Regions from separate parts of the Homo sapiens genome. Here region 1 is linked to region 2. A link means that fine-mapping ties the variant in region 2 to the expression of a gene that starts in the linked region. Tissue or cell type: blood mononuclear cells. Region 2 holds a variant in brackets; the other region holds the start of a gene. All regions are shown on one strand. Distances are between the middles of the regions.

The links. PIP is the estimated chance that this variant, and not a neighbour inherited with it, causes the effect.
Region 1: NCK2 starts here. The variant in region 2 is fine-mapped to the expression of NCK2 in blood mononuclear cells (TOPMed, PIP 0.96).

What each region holds. Positions count from the first base shown.
Region 1 is chr2:105,740,005-105,748,331 of GRCh38, forward strand. NCK2 (NCK adaptor protein 2) reads left to right here and starts at 4,908. Exons shown (of 5, transcript NM_003581.5): 1 at 4,908-5,134. RefSeq lists silencers at 4,559-4,878, 5,069-5,128, 5,239-5,628 and enhancers at 5,999-6,068, 6,169-6,218.
Region 2 is chr2:105,780,417-105,788,743 of GRCh38, forward strand. The region is part of intron 1 of NCK2 (NCK adaptor protein 2); the gene reads left to right. Among named protein-coding and RNA genes, the nearest start is that of NCK2, 40 kb to the left of the region's middle. RefSeq lists enhancers at 2,484-2,984, 6,270-6,841, 6,424-6,473. The variant A/G (reference allele first, on the strand shown) is at 4,753.

The DNA of each region.
Region 1 (8,327 bases), 40 kb before region 2:
GGTTATGAACTCTCTTGGAAATGCGAACTTTTGTCTGCTCTTCCTGTCTCCAGCTGTCCTTCCGTGCATGCACCAAATGAGTGTTCCTGGGCTGAGCCCAGATGATGTCCACACTTAACTGCTTTCCTTCTTGGCCTCGCGATCCGCTCTGTGCAGCCTCTGCTCCATTTAGGCAAGTGGGCCATTCTCTGTCCCTACAGGGTCCTCCCACGTCCCCCTGTCTGCCTCAGAGTTCTGAACTCCTGCCGCTGGGAATTTTCTCCCTGTCTATCTCCACCTTTCAAAATCCTACCATTTGCATTATTCAGGGGTTTGGGTTCCAAAAAGAGGAAGTGCCTCTGGGTACCTTAAGCAGAATAGGAGAATTTACTAGAAGAATATCAAGTAGCTCACAGGGGAACTGGAGAGCAGAAGGGGTGAGAATGGAGCTGGCTAATTCCTGTGGGAGGGATGTGCTGGGACTATTTCAGCCATGGCAAATTGAATCTCACCCTCTCTTGTCCTTTTCACCCTCTCCAGTTTCACAGTCTTGAGTGGGAGGGTTCCATTGGCCAATCCCAGGCTGTTCACTCTCACAGGGCTTCTGGGAATGGAGGGACCAAGGTGCCTACTCTGCCTCCCTCCAGGGTTCAGACAGGCTTCTCTAAAACCAGGAAGGGGCTAGAGAGGGGGGCAGCCAAATTAAAGGCAGCTTCCCACCATGTAATCTCTCAAGGTCATTGCCAATGCCACCACCTTTCATAAAGCCTAAAGCTTCTCCTGATTCTCTAGACATATTTTCTTTGGTACTGTTCATATTTAGTTTTATATTATAGTTATTTGTATGCTGGTTTCATCCTTCCTTTTGGGTCTTTCCTCTCCATTTCTCCTAAACTATTTTCCCATCCTTTCACTCCACTCCAGTTTGCGTTATAACCTCTCTGAATAATGCAATCTTATATCTGCTCTTTGCACATCCAGGTGTTCTTTGGTGTCTGCACCAAATGAATGAATCCTGAAGTGGATCTTATAATGCCTTACAAATAGAACTACACCAGATATGCTTAATTGAATTGAGGGTTACAAGAGAAGGTCATGAGAAAGGAGACATGAGTGTTTACCATGTGCTGAACACACAGTTGAGACATGTTTATATTATCTCCTTTAATTCTCACAACGCTTTGCAAGAGCACTATTAATATCTGAGGCTCAGAGAGGTGAAATGACCCCAAGGCACAGGCTCCAAGGTAGGCTTTGAGCCTCTGACGTATGACTTGGACAACACCCTCAACCTTGCTTTGTGTTTTCCGTGAGTCTAAGGAGGGGTTAGAGAAGGCCTTGAATGGAGCTCTGAAAGAGAAGGACGGGGACAGGGAATTCCTAGCTGCCTTCACACCACAGAAGGCTGAAACTAGTGTGACTCAATGTGGCACTGTGGGCAGAGCTGAGTGACTGAAGCAAACAGCTTATACTGGACAGAGGTAAAAAGGAGATTGTATGGCAGGGCTAAGTTGGAGAGGCCTTTGGAAGAGAGATCATAAGATGTAATGCTGATGTGATTTTAGGCAAAAGTTTACTGCACCTCCTTCCACTCCATGTTTTTTATGCTTTCAATACTTTGTGATTGAAGACAGTAAAACAGATGTGGACACATTAATGGAGTAGAATGCAGAAAAACCTATATATTTTTAGATAAAACATAAGCTTCAAAGAAATGTCTCCCCCATGTTAAGCCTTGCAGTGGGTTGGATGTTGGCCCCAAAAGATATGTTCACCTGGAAGCCGAGAACGCGACCTTATTTGGAAAAAAGGTCTTTGCAGATGTTGTAAGATAAGGATGTCGAGATGACATCATGCTGGATTAGAGTGAGCCCTAAATTCAATGATACTTGTCTTTACAAAAAGAGAGAAGGGAAAGGACACAGGGAACCAGGTTGTGTGAAGACAGAGAGGCAGAGGTGGGAGTGACACTGCCACAAGCCAAGGAATGTCTGCAGCCACCAGAAGCTGGAAGAGGCAGGGAAGGATTGTTCTCTACAGACTTTGGAGAGAGGCTGGTGTCTTGATATCAGACTTCTGAACTCCAGAACTTTGAGAAAATAACCTCTGTTTTGTCACCTAGTTTGGGGTCATTTGTTAAGGCAGCCCCAGGAAACGAACACAGGCCTCTAAGGGCTAAATACCCCAGCCTCTCTGGGGGAAAATGCTCAGTCTTCAGTCATCAGATAACTTTTGAGGAGACTGTGGTGGGCAATGGGGAGCCATGAGAAGTTCTTGAGCACAACCAGGGACAAATGGAAACAATTTACAGGAAGGTTAGGATGACATTGATGTCCAGTGTGAGTCTGAGGGATTTAAGAAGGAAGTAATGGGAGACCAGTTGGAAGGCAGTAGTTGTGGGGAATTGAACAAGAGTTTTGGAGTCAGGTACATGCTCTGACCCCAGTTCTTTGATCCACTGTTCAAGTGATTTCATCTGTAAAATGGGTATAATACTATTGTGTGTGGATTAGAGATGATATATGTCAAGAATTCAATCAAGGTACATTATAACTATTGCTAGAATGATGTATAAGTTAGGATGCCAGTGATGGAAATGGAAAGAAAGGTGCAGTGGAAAAGATGTTTAAGAATCACCAGGACTCAGAACCATGGGGGTAGTCTGCAAGGGGTCTTGGTGTCATTCAGCGCTCTCCCAGCTTTTCTTGGGGAGAACTCGGAGAGAGGGAAGGAAAAGCCAAGATAACAATGAGATTTCTCCCAGGAGCTGAGGTGCCTGGTAGACTCTTGGCCAGGCCTGAAACCATGGGAGGAGGAGCTGGTCTGGGGAGCAGATGAGTTTCATTTTGAACATGGTGACCTAGAAGAGATGCTGCGCCATGTTTAGGGGGTGCAGATTAGCTGGGGAGCTCTGCAGATTAGCAGGGGAGCTCTCTAAGGCTACAGGTCTGGGGGTTAATCAATGAAGGTTTAGACAGGGAGTGTACAAAAAACAATCAACTCTCTCTTTAAAAAAAAAAGGTGCGTATCAGAATAAAAACAAAGGGCCACCATCTGCCTTGGGGATATCACTTTTACAGGGTGGGAAGACAACAACCTCTCTAGAGGAGGCAGATGGGCAGGTCAGAAAGGTAAGAGAATCAGAACTGGCTGTGTTTGATGAATGAAAAGATGATGGTGTTTCAGGAAATAGCAGAAATGCCACATATTTCAGAAAACTCCACAGGATAAAGATTGATAAAGGGCCACTGGATTTAGATAGAGAATGACATCGGTGACTTCTAAAGAATCAGAGAAAGAAGAGGCATGCAAGAACCACGATTCAGTGAAAGTTTACAAAGCAAACAAGCTACAAACTGGGTCAATATTGCTATACTTATTTTGAGTAAATTAATCTAAAATTGGGCAGACTGATGACTAGAATTCTTCTTTTCTTATTGTAAAGCTAGATATTAGTAACACAAAACTTGCACAAAAGGATGAACTGAAGTAGCTTCTTTCACAAGGTCAAAACAAGGAAAAATGAGGCTGTTCTGATTCCCTGAGCTTGTACCTGATTCCTGCTCAGTGTACTGTGCTTCCTTCCACTTACTGAGCTATTGAGGGCTACCTACTGCCAGGGTACTTCACATAGGAGGTAAGTAAATATTATCTCCCCATATGACAGATTTTAGAAAGGCTGAGGACCACCTGTGCAACGTTACACAGTTCAGGAAGTCAACAGTCAAACACTCACCTGTCTGACTTCAAAGCTACGCTGACTCTAGTTACCTATCCTTGGGTACTTCCCTTCTGGAAGGAAGCAGGAGATGAGTGAATCAAATAATACAGCCTTGTAACCTTGGGTAAATTATTATTGCCTTAATAGTAAGCAGAGACCAGGAGCCTAAGAAAGAATCTCATTAACATGGATGCAGGCTATCCTGCCAGGAAATCAGAATCATTTGAATATTAGGATTTCCTTTGGGAAACCATATGGGGAGGAGAAAAGACATCCGGATGCATGTGTCTGTGAAAGGGAAACTTGTGTCTTTCCCCTTGCTCTTGGGTTTTCATCTTCCAAGTTTGTTTATAGGCTAGCCACAACTCGAGGCTGGGTGAGCTGAACGGTCCCATCATTAGCGACACTCCTTCTAGGGGCACATTCGGGCAGCTCCTCTTCGGGTTCTGCCCCCACGGGTGTGCAACCAGGATTCCACAGGCTGGGGCTGGCCTGGATGCCTGGGAGGCAACAGAGGTCGAGTTTCTTCTTCTTTTAGGAAGTGCCTCGGACAGGGATGATGGACTAAAAATGTGTCTGGTTGGGAAAGTAAATAGATGCAAAGCAAATAAATAAAAATGCCCACAAGCAATTACAGGGAGGAAGTGACATTTTTATTTAAGTCACTTTTCTGATGGACAACAGGCCTGCTTAGCTGAGTGCCGTGGGAATGCTTCCGGGAGGGGGGCGGCTGCCCAGCAACTAGAGCTTCGTGATAAGAACAACGAACAAACAAAAAAGAGGACGCAAAGCCCACCCGGCAGTCATCCCAGGCTGGAAGTTGCCGTCTGTGTTTTCACTCTCCTCCCCACCCACCTACCCTGCCCCCCACCGCCCGCACGCAATTTCGGGCGTGGGGACCCTTTCCTGCCCCCGGCGCCCGGCCCGTGCTGCGCCTCCAGAGCGGAGCGTCCCGCAGCCCCGCGCTATCCCGGCGCCCGTACCGGGACCCGGGCGCGGAGCCTGGCGACGACGGGGGGCGCCCCAGGTGGGTCTCGGGTCCCCGCCCCGCGCGCCCGGGCCTGGGCCGGCCCCTGGGCGGCGTCACGGCGCGGCCGGGGAGGAGCGCGGGAGGAGGAGGAAGAGCGCGGAGGAGGCGGGCGCTGCGCGCCGGGGGAGGGTCGCCGCCGCCGCCGCCGCCGCCGCCGCCGCTGCCGCGGGGATCGTCAGGCCGGAGCCGCGCGGCCGAGCGGGCGGCGGGCGGAGGGGAGGGCTTGGCGGCCGGGAGGCTCGCGGCGCCCGGGCCGGCAGGGTCCGCCCGGGCCGGCAGCGTCCGCCCGGCGGCGGGAGGAGGGAGCGGCGCAGACAAAGAGCGGCGCCTGGGCGGGCGCAGCGCGGCCACCGCCCCGGGACCCGCGCCGCTGCCCTCCGGCTCCGCGGGCGGCCCACGGCGAGGTAAGCGCGGCTAGGCGGGCGTGGGGCGGGGGCCACAAACTTGGGGCCGTTGGGCGGAGTTGGGAGCGCGGCGGGGCTCGCGGGCCGGGGTGCGCCCGGGAAGGGGCCAGGAGAGCGGGTCCCCTCCGCGCCCCTCCGGTGCTCTCGGCCCTGCCGCGGCCTGGGCGCCCCCGACCGCGGACTGCCGGGCACCTCCCGGCTCTGCACCTTCCTGCCCGCCTTCCCATCCCTAACCCCCACCATCGGGGGCCGGCCCAGGGGCGGGGACGCCAGCCAAGGGCGCGGGCGAGGATCAGGGCAGGGGGCCCGGCTGCGGGGCCCGGGGACTGGAGACCCCCGGGTGCGCAGGCTGCGCCTGGCCTGCAGGCGGGCGGCCGGCACGGAGCTCGGGGCTAGCGTGGGACCGTGCGGTGGCCAGGGTCGCCAGGGCGCGTGTGCCGGGGAAGAATAGCCGCGGATCGCAGGGCCCCGGCGCAGGGACGGGGGAGGCCGCGATCGGCCGGGAGAACTTAACCGTGTTTATTACAACTATTTATGTTCGCGCACAAAGCTGCTGTCACATTGCATAAAGGAGGTCCTCGCTTCGGCGAAGGGAGCTTTTGTGCCCGGCTTCAGGCTCTGCGCCCTGCCCCAGATTTACAGGACTCTAACAGCCACCTGAATGAACCAAAGTTTCTCACAATCGCTCGGCTCTCTCGGTTTTTTTCAGGGCGATTTAATCACCGAGTGCTTTTGGAAAAATTTGATATGTGAGTTTTAAGGCATGGAGGGTAACTGCCTTATGAGCACAGTTAGCTTGGCATTGTGTGGAGGGGTTTAATTTGCAAAACGCTTTAATTTGTAGACAATGGGGATCTCTGTGAAGGTCTGCGGTGGATGCTAGGGGTCATTGGCTGGTGGACCCCAGGCACCTGACTTAAACTAGTATTGTAACAGCTTCAGGGACAAAGCCGAGCGTGCGTGGAGTCGGCCTTGGCCACTTCACACAATTCAGGTTGGCAGATTCCTCTTTATTTGGCTTTGTTTATTTTGCCAACAGGTTTAAGGCTGCTTCTGCCAAGTTTGCATCTGCATAATGGGATGAGCAGGCCCCAGTGTGGGCAGGAGGGGGCCTAAAATATCGCAAGGGCCAGCTCCGTCCCTCGACCCAGAAAGAAACAACCCTGAGAGGCCGGTGGGCGTGGCTTGCTGGGACCTACAGGTAGGGGAGTCCCTTCCTGGCCCAGGCGCAGTCCCCGCTTCTCGGAAGGGATTTTGTGTAGGAATGAAAGTGATTCAGGGTGTTTTTCATGCCTCTGTTTTAGATGTAGTTATCAAGTCTCAAAAGTGACTGAAAATGAAATTAACCTGGGCCGCTTTAACTTACCAAAACGGAACTGTGCGTGTGAACACTCCCTCAATTCACTTTGCAAGCTTCATAGATAAGCAGGTGAATTAGTAACAGGATTCAAGCCTTGCGAGTTTTACGTAAAGAGAATGGCAGTCATCGGACACGTGGAGAAGAAATTGACTTCACCTGGAGATTGGGCTAGACATGGAGGTTTTTTGACGTTTGGAACAGGGGTTTCCTGAGAAGCAAGTGTTAACCTGCTTGTGAAGAAGTGAACACGAGGGAAAATCCTACCTCAGTATATTCTGCCCTGGAGGTTGGTTAGATGTAGTTTTGATTGGAGAAGGTGGCGGAATCTTAGTGGTCTTCTGGCGGCTACTTGAGGCTGAAATGGAGAACTTTAGGCATAGGAAGCTGTGGAGGTGCCTGGCCCACTTCCTGTCCCGGAGGCCTCGCCTGGATTCTGAGCTTCTTTCCTGCTTCATAAACATTCAGGGGGGTTGGTCATGAAACACTGGATGAAATTGGGTCACAAATTGCCATCAGGAAGAGTTGGCTGCTGCATAACCCCCTCTGTCCACTTGTGGAGAAACTGACCCTGTTAACCGTCGGGCTTGCTGAAGGTGCCTTGCAGGTGGCTGTGCTCAGTTTTCATGCTTTGTGTTTTGCTTAGGACACGCTGCATACTTAAATCTTCTTCATCCTTGCTCTGTTTGACCCTGCCATATTCCCAGGCTTTGTCATTTACATTTTCGGTTATTTAGCTTTTCCAACAAACAGCAGATCTTATGTACACAGTACTATATTTGAGAAATGCACTACCATCCATATTAAATACACCGGAAATCTTCCTTGCATGTGCACAGACTGGATAACCTTTTAAAATACCCTAAGACTCCCGGAATGGCGCAGAATGCACTGGAGTCCTTTACTTGATCAGTTGCACTAGCTTAGTTTGCCCTGGATAGACCAGGCTGCGAGGCTCTATGGGACACCCATTTTTCTAACTGCTCAAACTGGCTTGCCGTGTGCACTGGGGGAGACAGGGCTTGCGGAAATCATTCTCTGACATTAAAAATGAGGCTTAAAGACTGAAGAGCTCAGAATTGCTTGCTGGAACTACAGGGGAGGATGATGAGTGATGTTTGGAAAAACAAGTAAGCTAACTTTTTTCACAAATGAACTGGAAACTCCCTACAGCTCACTTCAGATGCTTAGGAAATTAGTTTTCCCATCCAGAGGGTTTGCGAGTGGCACTTCCAAATGGTTTCTGTTTCCTAAAATGAGTGATGGAAATACTTCACGGCACGTTTTCAAAGGGCCTAAGCTAAAATGTGATTTCGTGTATCTTGTTCCATGCCTGAGTTAAGGCAACTCAGAAGAAGGTCGTGACGGCCTTTTAACGGGCTATCAAAAGTGTGCAGCTAAAGCAAAAACAGTTTTGCATTTCTTTAGGCCATTTAGTAGCACAATTAAAAAATTAGACTCTTTTCTTTTCCTGCATTTTCCTTTGAACATTTCCCAAAGTATGTTTATTTCTAAAGGTAAATGAACGTTAGCAAGTATTACCTCTGCCCAGTGACACACATCCACATGTGTACTGGCACATACATTCCTACCTCAAGAATCTTAGTCCTTGAAACTGTGGAAATGAAAGTTATTTTGATTGAGGTAGCAGTGTCACAGTGATGTCATACGGTGTCACTGTCCCTGACCAGCCTCTGTGTTCCCTCTCAACTCCTTGGCTCAGTCTCCTCCGTGTCCTGAGTTCTTACTCATCCCAAGGGTCGTCTCTTACTTCTTTTCTTCCCCACATCTTATCAACTCCAAACTAGAGGGGATGGCATCATCTTTAAACTTCCA
Region 2 (8,327 bases):
TCGTTTGGTATCTGGGTTAAAATTCTAATGTTCATCCTCAAATCCTGCTTCTCGCTCATGTCCTGTGTCACATCCATATAGATGTTGAATAAAGTGATAACCACATTTTTGTCATCTATACCTGGGCACTATTGAGAGTGGGAGGGGTGCTGTCTGTAATTATGCTGAAACATCAGTCACCAGTCAGAGCCCCTGGTCACTGATGTGGTCTGAATGTGTCCCTCATATGTTGAGATCCTACCCCCCAAGGTGATGGTATTTGGAGGTGGGGCCTTTGGGAGGTGATTAGGTCGTAAGAGGGGAGCGCTTGCAAATGGGATTAATTTCCTTACGGAAGACACCCCAGAGGGCCCCCTCACCCCTTCAGCATGTGAGGACACAGCAAGAAGCCGCCGTGTAGGAACCAGGAAGGAGGCCCTTACCAGACACTGAATTTCCTGGTACTTTGATCTTGGACTTCCAGCTTCCACAACTGTGGGAAATAACTTCCTTTGTTTATAAGCCACCATTCTGTGGTATTTTGTTACAGCCAGCCAAATGGACTACCACAGTCACCCAGCCTTGACTAAGTGACCCTCTCTTTTCTCATTGCCCGAATCTAGATTTTGTCTCTCACCTGGTCGTGGTCTTCCTGTCTTCTTGCTTTCAGATTTTTCTCCCTCCCACCCACCTATTCCGGGGTTGGCTTTCAAAGATACAGATCTAATTGTTTTACTTCTCTTCTTATAAACTATTAGCTTCCCATTTCCTAGAGGTGCCTTTGTGTTGTCAAAGCACCTTTAAAATCTGATCTTTGCTCCACCTTCTACCATTCAGCCCTTGTGAATTTTATGAACATGATTACTCTAGGTATTCCCAAGGGAGCCGTGCACTTTTTACACCTCTGTGCCTTTGCAGGTCCTGTTGCTGACACAGGGGCAGCCTTCTCCCATCTCCGCTTCCACCTCCACCACTCATCCCTTCCCACACTGCAAGACTTGACTAAATGCAATCTCCCTTTTGAAGCCTTCAGGATTCCCCCAGCCAGAACTAGTGACCCTCCTTGGCCTTCTAGTCCATGTACGTCTGTTTCGTAATATTTCTGCACTCATTCCTGGAAGGCAGTACAGCCTAGCAGTTAAGATCTGGTTTGCTGGCATGAATCATGACCTGCCATTGCCATAGTGTGACTTTGGGCTGGCAGAGGTCTTTGTGCATCAGTTTTATTATCTGAAAAATGGAGAAAATAGCAGTCTTGTAAGGTAGTTGTTAGGTTTATAATAAAGAGCAATGCATGAAAAGTACAGAGCCTGTGGCTTGGCAAGTGATAATCCTGCAATTTATGTTGTCTGTGACAGAGCTGTCGCCTCTCCGCAGTACGAAAATTTGTAGACATGTCTGTTTCTCCAGTTGGAATGAGTCTGTGATAAGGACTCTGGCCACGTAGTGATGCTCATTAGGCATTTGCTGAATGAACTGGTATACGTGCATATGTATTCTTCCCTCTTTATTTCTTGCCGTAAATGCTTTTAACTGAAATAGGTACATACAGCTGTCAGTTTCTTGACTATGAAGTTGAGAATGTCCAAGTGAGTCCAAATTACCTGAAAACCTGCGGCCCATCAGGTCCCTCAAGCTGAGGGAGGAGCTCCTAGACAAAGACCTGGTTTCCCAGGTTTGAGGTCCATTCCTTCCTTACTCTGTTCTTACTATGACTGCGGGAAGTTGCTTTTGGGCTTCCGCGAGAGTGGGAGCCTATCACCGATCATCTCTTTCCCCTCTCTTTATAGGAGTAAGGGGACAACCCTCCTGGTCTGGCTGTAGGCAGGCGGGGTGGCCGGGCCCAGGGACTCAGGGTGGCCCTTCCTTCTGGTGTAGATGGATGGATTATCAGGCACATCCTGCTGATGGCTTCCACCAGCCCATGGGGATTAGTGATCTGCCTTCTCTCTCTGCCACCAAAAATCTCCCTAAAACTAGTTCCACTCTCTCCACAGCAGGTGTCAGAGTTGGGTTGATGGCCATTTGAGGACTTGAGAAGAAACAGTCTATATAATGAACGCTCTTTTCTTAAGTATTAAAGTTACTTTAAATTCTACACAAAATCTCACTTGAGGAATGCTGGCTATGTGAAGTGTCTTATGTTTTCATCCTCTCACTCTTGAACTCCATGCATAGGTAGTATGTGGTTTTAGTACTTTTTATTTTGTTAGAGCAGTTTTGTTTTCATGGCTAATTTAGCTCTCCTCATGCAACGTCAAATGATAGAACCTGATCGTTTCTGAGAGTGGGGGATCCGGCCCGTTGAAATCATTTGGCAAAATGGGCTGCAGCTGCCTGTAGAGGCGAAGTGGATGTCGGGGAGAAGAGGAGGTTGCAAAGGCTGTTAGGCTTGTGCTCAGCTCTGGCAGCCACAGCACCTGCCTCTCAGAGCTGGCTTCCAGTGACTAGTACTCACTTACTGTCCCCAACGCTCCCAACTGGAGAGGCGTAGGGGGCAGTTACTCCAGACACTTGTGCTCACCGGCTTGGCGAAGAGGGTGGCAGCCTCACCTTTATTTCCGGTGTCATAACAAGCCCCATTTGCAGCTGAGTTGGTCGACTATCATTTGCAACAGGTAAGCCTTAAGGCCAGAGCCTTTTTGGGTACCTGGGATATAACCGTGGAACAAGATAGATGGGGAAGCTGCCTTAGAATAAGAGTTGCAGAAGGCCAGAGCCCTGGGAGGTGGTTTAACTTTCTCTGCAGCACTGCTTTGCTTTCTGCCGCAGCAGCTGAGGAAGCCAATTTAACCTTGAATTTTCTTTAAGATGATATGTAATCTTTTGAAGATGGAAAGTAATGGCAGTGGAATGTTCTGCGTGCTGTTTGTAGCCTCGCTAGAGCTTGGGTGGGCCCCCATCGCCCTCCTCCTTTGGGGAGCCTCTAAGAGTCACTAGAGGAGACTTCCCTGAGCTTCCTTCCTCGGAGTGAGGCATTAAATTGTGCCCGTGTTCTGGGGTAGCACCGTGAAGGCCCGCGTGGAACATGGTTTTTATTTAGAGTAAAAACAGCTCGATGCAGCGTTGCCTGTCTGAGCCAGACTTAGCTCTTCATCTTCACCTGCTTGTGGGAAGCTTCGTACACCACCAAGGCACAGGTTAATGTGCAGTATTTGCCACCGTGGGTGCAGTTACTAGGAAGGCAGCCGTTCGCGGAGAATAATGGTGTGTTTTTTCCACCTTGTTCCTCTGAGCATCATGAAATACCTTAGCACGAAGAAACCCTGTAAATATTCTGGGTAATAGCCCTACATAAATGTATTCAGATTATGTTTTTTTTTCGCTAATAGGTGAAAAATGATGACCTCCACTCTTTCCAAGAGGGGTGGCCTGTTCCTGAGCGACTTCAGTGTGCTTCCCCACAGAGAGGGTTTTGCAGCTGGAAACAAGGGCATTTCTTCCCAGAAAGTGGGAGTTGTTTCGCTTCTCCCTTTATAGTACTGCCTTGTAGCAATCTGAAATGTGGATATATTTGGAATTTGCACGAGAAAATGAAACACCCTTTCTCTGCAGAAGACAGAGTGCCATTGCCTTTGCAGGTCACTGAGTAAGCAGCAGGACCTGCTTCAGCTGGACGGCAGGTCCCTTCTGTGGCACCTGGTTGGCCTCAACACCATGCGTGGCATTGGCAGTGATGAAATTCATTTTCATTCAGGAAAGCGTCACTGGGAGCTTTTCTTTTTTGAGAGAGGCTCTCCCTCTGTCACCCAGGCTGGCGTGCAGTGGCGTCATCTCTGTTCACTGCAGCCTCTACCTCTTGGGCTCAAGTAATCCGCCCGCCTCAGCCTCCCAAAATGCTGGGACTACAGGCATGAGACACCACGCCCGGCTGTTATTTCTAATAGGAAGTTGCCATCCCTTTTCTCACCCCAGTGGCATTTCTGGGGAGCAGTTTTCCCACCTGCTGATCGGACTCCTTGTGGTGGTCATATGGGCTTGGGGTGAATCGGGAGGGGAGAGTTTAATTTGCTTACATGTCAAGCTGTTTAAAACAGCCTTTCAGGCTAGTAAGTATTGATGCTGGTTATATTGAGGTGAAGGGGCATGTTAAATTCAAGATACATTTGTGTTTCCACTATGTGGAGCCTCGCTTGTGGAGGGTACAATGTAGAGATGTATTCAGGTCTTTACAATGTAGGTGAGCATAAATGCATTTTTATCATTTCTATAATAATCACATTTAAATTGAGCATGTCTGTGGTTAGGCAGGCAGTTACAAATGCTTGCCATAAAAGATTCTCATTTAGTCTAGTGAAAACTATAACACCATCAAACTTGCCCCTGGAGGAGCAGTGTGTCTGTTGAGGTCCATCCGTTCCTCAGCAGCCACTGTTCCAGGCCCGTGTTTCCCACACTTCCCATTTCAACATTCTTAGAATATGCACAAAGAGTGTGTCCTCAGATACTGACAGAATAGGATACACGAGTAAAGTTAGGAACACGTGCATGCACTTAGGCAGCCTCCCAGTTTGAAATGCTTTCTGAAGCAGGTAGTTGTTTTTTATGTGTTTTTTTGTGTGTTTTTTCGTTTTTGTTTTGTTTTTGTTTTTGTTTGTTTTGAGACGGAGTCTCGCTCTGTCGCCCAGGCTGGAGTGCAGTGGCGCGATCTCAGCTCACTGCAAGCTCCACCTCCTGGGTTCACGCCATTCTCCTGCCTCAGCCTCCTGAGCACATGGGACTACAGGCGCCGGCCACCACACCTGGCTAATTTTTTGTATTTTTAGTAGAGAC[A/G]GGATTTCACTGTGTTAGCCAGGATGGTCTCCATCTCCTGACCTCATGATCCGCCCATCTCGGCCTCCCAAAGTGTTGGGATTACAGGCGTGAGCGGCAGTTGGTTCTTTACGGTGTCACTGGGAGCCGAGGTGGCCATGCTGTGTGTGTCCAAGTGTAAAAAGAACCAGAGGACGGTTCCCCCGTCCTGGCCAAGGAGGCTAGTGGGAAGCTTCCTGAGATGTCTGTGGACACAGGAAAAAATTGTTGTGTTGTCCTACAGGGAGACATGTGAGTGTAATTCCTGCTATTCAGAAAGATAGAGTCCAAAGTGACACGACCAAAAGACCGCCAATACAAAATCTAATGCAGCCTGCCCAGTCCTCCTTGTAACCTGGTCCCACTGACAGGTTTCCCGCTGTGAACAGTAAAGGGAAAGGCCCAATCTCCAATAGCACCAATAGAGTGGAAGCCACAGGATTGGCTCTGAGCCACCTCAACATCCGCTCAGGTGTTTGCAGGTATGCCCAGCCAGGGAGTCTGGGGCAGCCCTGCCGAGGTTAAGTTTGCCTTTGTGCTTTATAAGCCGAAGCTTGGGAGAACCTGATCACACCCAAAATGTCATTCTGAGGGTCAGCAGGAGGTTGGGCGCAGGACTCCTAGTAAGTGCTGAGTCTATTTATTTAGCTGTTCTCATTTGATGTGCTGAAGAAAATAAATACGATATCTAGTAGCAGTGCAATACTTTTGGTCTAGATGATGGTCCAGGGAGGCCCAAATTATTTAACTTGGGCGACTGGTTCCCTGGACTTAATACCTTTTGCCTGTTTTTTGTGTTTTCGTAAACGTGTGTGTGTCCACTCTTTGCCCATCTGTCAATTTTCTCATTTACCTTCTGCCTTATTTGCCTTATTCTCACGTCCCTTCCACTGCACATCTCTCTATCAGTTAATTAATCCATTCATCCAGCCAGCCTTTTATTGATCATCTGTTGTGTCTAGGGCAGCATGATTAGCGTTGTGGACTGAACAATAAATTACAAACAATCCCAGCACCAGGGATGAAAAAATTATGTGTACAAATGACTCTGATAACAAATGATTATTTTGAATCTATGTAATAACCGTAGTGATCATTAGCTGAGCATGTGCTATGTGCCAGGCCTGGCTCTGAGCACGGACTTGTTCCATTAGCCCTGGGAACGGCCAGTGGGCAGGCTGGGGACAGGATGGGAGTTCGGGAAGGCTGGGAGTGTTGTCTTGGGCCTGTCTGGAAAGGTCTCTGCCTTTGGAGACCTGGCTGCCAGCCTTGGAGGTGGCCCTGGCCGCTGCTGGGATCTTGTGTCTGCTCCTCTCTAAGCATGAGATGCTGAGTCGGTTCCTTTAGCTCAGACTCATCCACACCTTTAGGAAAAGGAGGTAATGCCGGCCTCGCGCGGTTATGAGAGTGAAATTAAACTCCACATAGCTGGCTCAGGGTGAGGCCTGATAAGCACTGTGTCCCTGTGGTGGCTGTGGCCTGGCCTGACTCTCCTGGGTCCCCGGGCAGGGCTTCCTGTCTCCATCGCTGTCTCTTATTTCTCTGCCTCCTTCAGGTCCAGCTTCTACTCTCTCCTCCCTTCTGCCTCCCCCACGCATTGCTTCCTCCTGGGTTTGTTCCCCTCTGCCTCTCTTGGGCCAGTGCCTTCTACCAGCCCTGCTCCCACCCTAGCCTTAGGCTGACTCCCTTACCTCTGCTGCTCAGGCACCCTCCTTTCTAAAGCATGGTGATAACAGCACCGTCCAGACTCGAAGCAGGGGACCTGCGAAACTTCAGCTGGCGTGGTGCCGCACAGGTGCTCCCTGGCCTTGGTGGCTCTCAATGGGGTGAGCATGTGCCCTGCTTTCCTCTCTTCTGCCCTTTGCTGCGACTCCTCTGCTGTCTTGCTCTGCCCGCTGCAGGCGTGGTGGCACTGGGCAGCTGCTGTTACTCCCACTGCCCTCACCTTTGACCCTCAGCCCTGAGCACTCAGCTGGATTTCTCTTTTCTGGGTTGGTTGTCCTCACACTGAAGGAAGCTCAGCTCAGCGCCGTGGAAGGGGCAGGACCCAGTCTCAGCTCTGACATGGTCATATCTGTAGGCTTGGGCTGAGTCTTCCACCTGCAAGTGCAATGGACTGAAATTTTATGTCCCCCAGAAATTCAGGTGGTGAAGTTCTAACCCCCAGTGTGACTATATTTGGAGATGAGCCCTCTGAGGAAATAGGGTTGAGAGTAGGGCCCCCATAATGGGATTCCTGCCCTTCTGAAAAGAGACAGCAGAGAGCTCTCTCTGCCACCTGAGGACATAGCGAGAAGGCAGCCATCGGCAAGCCAGAAAGTGGCCCCCATCAGACTCTGCTGGCACTTGGATCCTGGACTTGCAGCCTCCAGAGCTGCGAGAAATGAATACCTGCTGTTGAAGCCCCCAGCCTGTGGTCTTTTGTTAGGGCTGCCTGAGCTGACTCAGGCAGTGAAGCTACCTCAGTCTCTCCCTGCGGTGGAGACTCCACCCCATGGGGTGTCAGGGTGCACTGGTGACCACTGCACCTTCCCCATAGGAGCATCTCCACTAGCCAGGTTCCTTCTTGCTGGAAACAAGGCCCATCTTTTCTTGATGACAGTGAGGGAATGGGTAGATGGGAAAATTACGGCCATAACTTGTTTTGCTTTAATTTTGGGCTACATCCATGTTATAAGATGATCTCATTCTGTTAGAAACACATGCGTATACCGCCCCCCACCGCCCCCGACTTGTAGATCCCTGGCCCATTGGCAGAAGTGAGTAGACCTGGGCTTCCTGCCCTCCTGGGCTCCACGTGCCACCAGCCAAGGACAAATCAGAGTTGGGATGTGTCTCCTTCCAAGGTTGGATCTGCTTGGATCCATTTTGGATGCAAAAGTGAGGGTGCTAGCTTTGAAAAAGCTTCTCAATTTGACTTTCCTTTCACTTCCGTAAAGTGTAGGGGATTAGAAGTGAGAGTTGGGGAGGAAGGAGGCCAATTCTAGATAAGTTTTTTCATCAGCTATGTGAATTGGAGACAAAAGTTAGAAAACCTAGGTACTAGTGCTGTCTTTTGCTTAAAGGATTTTTGTGCCCTTGAAACTTCTACACCCATAAAATGCATTTTCATGGAGTTAAAGCCATTGCTTAAAAGTAGGTTAAAAGGAGAGGGAAATTCTTTTCTCCATTTCTATCAACGCCATTTAGATGATGATGTTTCAGTCTTTTTTCCATGCTTAGGTTTCCTTTTTCCTCTGGTTTGTATATTTATAGTCATACTCTATCCAAATGAACTTTTCTCATTAATAGGGATTCTGAAACTACTGTTATCTCCATCTCCTCTTGAACAAGTAATACAAGCAATATATATTTTTGATATTTAACATATCTATAGTTGTACTATATTAATACAATTATTATACTGTATATTACTTATATGTAGGTTAAATAAGACACTTCTGTTGGCCAGTGCAGAACTTCCTCATCTCTAAGTGCCTTCTCCTAGAGTTTTCTATTTTTTTGTTTTCTTTCAATATGCTTTATCCATAGAATGCATAATTTTTTTTGTTTGTTCT